2 separate regions of the Homo sapiens genome follow, and region 2 is linked to region 1. A link means that fine-mapping ties the variant in region 1 to the expression of a gene that starts in the linked region. Tissue or cell type: monocytes. Region 1 holds a variant in brackets; the other region holds the start of a gene. All regions are shown on one strand. Distances are from middle to middle.

The links. PIP is the estimated chance that this variant, and not a neighbour inherited with it, causes the effect.
Region 2: it holds the start of ANKS3, and the variant in region 1 is fine-mapped to the expression of ANKS3 in monocytes (TOPMed, PIP 0.97).

What each region holds. Positions count from the first base shown.
Region 1 is chr16:5,379,683-5,382,363 of GRCh38, reverse strand. It overlaps a transcript of RBFOX1 not described here. Among named protein-coding and RNA genes, the nearest start is that of LINC02164, 160 kb to the right of the region's middle. The variant C/T (reference allele first, on the strand shown) is at 1,145.
Region 2 is chr16:4,732,964-4,735,644 of GRCh38, reverse strand. It overlaps ANKS3 (ankyrin repeat and sterile alpha motif domain containing 3), which reads left to right and starts at 1,374. Exons shown (of 18, transcript NM_133450.4): 1 at 1,374-1,707. It overlaps DNAAF8 (dynein axonemal assembly factor 8), which reads right to left and starts at 1,108. Exons shown (of 10, transcript NM_139170.3): 1 at 947-1,108. RefSeq lists silencers at 1,249-1,478, 1,529-1,588.

The sequences.
Region 1 (2,681 bases):
AATGCAAACAAGTGGTAATACATAATATCAGCCCGAATAGTTTTCAAAGAGCAGAATAACAGTTGAATAACAGCTGAATTGGAACTATTTGAGCATTTTTTAAAAACATAAAAGATGTGGTACCCTTGATCACAGCATTAGAGACAATGTTGTCAATTACTGATGAAGCCTCAGTTAACTCTTAGATGGCCTGAATGACATATTAAGTTTCTGTGAAGCCTGGAAAAACAGACTGCCCCATTGGAGGGACACCACCTTATAAAGTTCTGCAGGGCTTCCCAACCAGGGGGGTGATTTTGTTCTCCCAGGGGCATCTGGCAATGTCTGGAGACATTTTCGGTTGTCCCAGTTTGGGGAGATGAAGATGCTACTGACGTCCACTGAGTAGAGGACAGGAATGCCACAAAAGCTCCCACAAGCACATGACAGACACCACAGCAAAGAATGATCAGCCCCAAATGTCAATAGCGCCAAGACTGAGAATCCCACGCTGGAGTTAGCCAGCCTGTTTTTTGGTTGCAAGACCTTGAGGGAGCTTTTAGCCTCTCTGAGCCTTGGTTCTACCATCTGTCAAATAAGGGGGCATCCCAGGACCTAACTTCCAGAGTTGTTGAGAGATTATGAAGCGACATTAATCACCATCATCACTTCCATTCAACAGGCTCTTGCTATGCCTTGGGCACCATGCCAAGAGTCTGCCTGTGCATTATTTGATTTAATGTTTGTAACAACCCTATGGGGGAGTTAGCACAGCTAAGGTCCCACATGGAAGGGATGCAGGCTCGAGCCCCAGCAGCCTATGCCTTGACCTCTTCATCCTCACTACCCAGTGTGGTCTATGGGCCTGCAGCCTCAGCTTCACCAGGGAGCTTGCTAGAAATGCAGAATCTTGAGCCCTGCCCCAGACCTACTGAGTGCAAATCTGCACGTGAGCCAGATCTCCAAGTGATTTATGTGCCTGTTAGGGTTTTAGACACAATTTGCTAAGGACAGCAGCTGGCCCTAAGTAAATACTAAATAAATATTAATTATTTGTATTGTCGTCACTGTAGCTTACGGAGAGATTTGCTAGGATAAAATTCAGACTCGGCATAATATGCATGGATGTGATGATGACTCACCCAAGGGCATAGGGTCTGCCCTG[C/T]CTTTTACTGAGTCTCTCTCTATACAGATAAAGACCAGGCTGTCAAATACAAAGAGCCAGGACCCCATACTAGCTCTTCTGATTCCTCAGTCCCTCTTCCTCCTTCAGCATCCTGTCCTCTCCAGTGGCGTATCTATTTCACACTATGGTGTAAATGACTCATGGTCTACGAGGCCTCTCCAAGGGAGTTCCAAAGCTCAAGCCATGCTTTCCGCCACTGATTGATAAAAAAAATCCAGATCTTTATTGCCAAACCTCAAGTGATGGGCAGTGCCATTTTAGTGCATAAAAAGGTGACATCACAAAGCATTCTTTATCTCTTTAAAATTTCCTACCTTATTATACAAGTCATGCATGAGTACATCCTCAGGATAAAATATTCAAGTTATATATAAGTGCATAGGGCACAAAGCAAAAGTCCCTTTCATCACAGAGGCGCTGAAGGTTTCAAAGCAGAGACTCCTGAGTTTGGATCTCACCTCCATCCCTTACTAGACGTGTGTCTTTGGACAACTTACTTGCCCTCTCTGTGACTCAGTTTCCTCATCTGTACCTCAAATATCTGTTTAAGGATGAAATGTAATAATGCCTAAAAAATGCTTAGCTCTGAGCCTGCACACAGTGGGAATTAGCAATGCTTTCACACCCTAGTCTTGTCCCCAAAGGTAAGTCCTATTCGCAGCTTGGCATGAAGACTTGGAGACCCTCTGCTATGCATTTACTTATACAGGTACCCAACAAGTACAAGTGCACATTTAGTATAAAGACGATCACAGCAGACCTTAGTTTTCCAACTTGCTTGCTTTAGAGTTCAGCTGAGTTGTGGGGATATTTTAATGCCCATCACACAGATGTATCTCTTGTTCTAACCGCTCTGTACGTCTATCCTTGGGACAGAGGCACAATGATAGATTGAATAATTCCCCTATTGTGGACATTTAAGTTTCCACCATCTACCTACTGAAAGTCGACCGTACATGCAAAGGCAGCCAAACTCCAGCATGTCAGATGGAGGAAGCTGAGCAGCCAGGAAGTGGAGCCAGGCGGAGGATGCTGTCATCAGAGCCTCTGCCAAGGACGGGAAGGATGACGACAATCTGGGGCACACTCAAAATAAATAATTGTCCTTAACCCTCTCAAAATTGGGAAGCACATCCTTAGTCACCGGCTTCCTGTCACAGCTGGGTGCTGTGCCCTCACACCGCCCACTGCAAGGCTGTGCCCAGGCTCCCAGGTTCACAGCCAACAAGGGCACCTGCCCGGGATGATTCCTCCAACGCCCCAAGCGCTTCTCTCCAGCAAGGGGGCCAAGTGCAAGGAGTTACCCTGGCCAAAAAGGACCTAAAAAATGACCCAGAAGAGATGTTTAATGACTTGGGTACTATCAAAACCCTGAAATGTTACCCAGACCACTAATCTATAAAGCAGATCAAAGGGAGAGCCCTGGTGGAACCAAGCTGGTTGTTCAGAGGGGGAGATAAAGAGCCTCATCTTTTCCCCTGAGACCCCCAGGGTCCTCCAGAATACAGTTGATAAA
Region 2 (2,681 bases), 650 kb after region 1:
TTTTTTTGGAGTCACTACTCTGACCAGCCCCTGCATTTATATCTTAGAGTCTTAAAGGAGATGGTCCTGTTATTCAGGGGGCTGGGGAGCTTGAGCTTGAGAGCTGGGGGGTGAGGGTCCTCTAGAGCCAGTGTCAGGAGAACTCTGCAGCTCGAGAGGCCGCTGTGGCTTTGGCCCTGCAGTCAGTGCCCGTTCATCCCCAATCAGGGCAGCGGCAGGAGATGTGAATTGGGGGCTGCTTGCTTCCTCTGTACTTCTGGGAATAGGGCAGGTGCTTGGTGCACTCTGAACTGGGAGCAGCGGGTTGGGGACGCATCTGGTGCACACAGCCAGCGGGTGTTTTTTGTAACTAGAGCTCTGTTCCGCAATTCAGGGCACAGTATTTCTTAGGGCAACAGAATCGTCGGGATGAAGAGGGCCTCCAGAGACTCTGATAAACCCTTCAGGCGGACAAGACAATAGGGGAGGGAACGGCATTACCGGCAGAAGGAAGAGCATGTACAGTAGCTCAAAGGAATGAACCGCCCAACAGGTTTAAGGGAAGAAAGTGTCAGTTGCTGGACTCTCCGGTGAAAACGGACCAGACAATGCAGGGCCCTGAACGCCAAGTTGAGGAGCTCAGAGCATCCAGAAGGCGAAGGGGAGGCTCGGAGCCGCCTCTGAATAACGGCCTTCCGGCTCCGTCTCGGGGTGGGTTTCTCAGCTGCAGCCTGTTAGCCCCGCCACAGCCCCGCCCCGGTTCTCAGAGCCCCGCCCCCAGCCGGCCTGCCACGAGGCTGCCGGTTGTTATGGCAACCAGACGCCAACAGCCTCCCGGGTCGAGCTTTTAAATTTTAAAGCTGTGGAAGTGGAAAGCCCATCGCTCCTCCTCTCACCCACCCCCAGCCCGTATTTCCCCGCGTTTTGTTCAACTCCCTGCAGGCGCAGCAGGCCCGAGGCCCCTCACCTCAGGCCTCTGCCTCCACTCCCCGCGCTGTCCTGACAGCGCTATAAACAGCCTCCAGCGCGTCACTCCGCTCGCGTCCGCCCCTCGGGCCGCGCCGCAGGTACAGAGGCTGTCCCCTTCTTCAGCACTCTCCCTCTCAGCGGAGCTTTACATTACTAGACTGCCTCCGCCTTCCCCCCACCCCGCCCAGCTCCTCTTTCGGGCCTTTGCGCGTCCTGCCTCTCCTGCAATGGGATTGGTTCCCCTGGAGGGCGGGGACGGAGCAGGACAAACACCACTAGCTCATTGGCTACCGCGGGCATCAGACAGCGAGCCGGGAAGCTGACCGGAAGGTCCGGGTGCGGGACGTGTGCATTCCACGGCGCCCGGGAGCTGTCCCGGTGCCGACCCGCGAGCTTCCCGGCGTGCTCCGCGCCCTCCCGCAACTACTTCCGGGGCGGGTGCCGGGGGCGGTGCCCCGGCGAGGGAGCGTGGCGGCGAGCTGTTTGGGGGGGGTTGGCGACGGCAGCCCGAGGGCGGCGCAAGGCCTGAGGCCCAGCACAGGTGGGTTCCGCGGCGGCCCGGCCCCAGCACTTGCCGGCACCTGCAGCCCGCCTAGACCCGGCGCTCGGGCGTCCCGCGCTGCACTTGCTCGCCGCGTGACTGGAGGACCGAGCCCCCACATTTTCTTTATGTGGTTGTGGTGGGGGCACAGTAATGCCCTGTGCGCCGTAGCGTTCCTGTGGGGATGTGGCCGGGGGGCGTCGGGAAGCGTCACTGCTGTGAGTTACGGGTTTGTCGGCCAGGGACCCGCCCCGGGGCCAGTGAGCTACCTTTGCGATGCGGTTCCACGGGGCGAGAGGGGGTGCCTGGGTGCTTTCACAGACCTCCTCTGTGGGCGTGACAGTTACCACCAGCATCACATTTGTTAAGATTTTTAAAAATTTTTTAATTTTTGTGGGTACGTAGTAGGTGTATATATTTATGGCGTATATGAGAGATTTTGATACAGGCATGCAGTTCGTAATAATCACATGTAAAATGGGGGTCTCCATCCCTTCAAGCATTTATCCTTTGTGTTACAAACAATATGATTATACTCTTTGAATTATTTTTAAATGTGCAGCCGGGCGCGGTGGCTCACTCACGCCTGTAATCCTAGCACTTTGGGAGGCAAAGGCGGGCGGATCACCTGAAGTCAAGGATTTGAGACCAGCCTGGCCAACATGGGGACACTTCGTCTCTACTAAACATACGAAAACTAGGCTGGCATGGTGGCTCATACCTGTAATCTCAGCTACTCGGGAAGCTGAGGCAGGAGAATCGCTTGAACCCAGGAGGCGGAGGTTGCATTGAGCCGAGATCACGCCGCTGCACTCTAGCCTGGGTAACAGAGTGAGATTATGTCTCAAAAAAAATAATAATAAATAAATAAAATGTGCAATTAGATTATATTGACTATAGTCACCCTGTTGTGCGGTCAAATACTAGATCTTTTTTTTTTTTTTTTTTTTTTTGAGACGGAGTCTCGCTTTGTCGCCCAGGCTGGAGTGCAGTGGCTTGATCAAATACTAGATCTTATTCATTCTGTTTTTTTTGTATCCATTAAGCATCCCCACCCTCCACTACCCTTCCCAGCCTTGGTTACACTAGAAGTAACCATCCTTCTACTTTCTATGTCCATGAGTTCAGTTGTTTTGATTTTTAGATAACCACAAATAATTGAGAACATGCAATATTTATCTTTCTGTGCCTG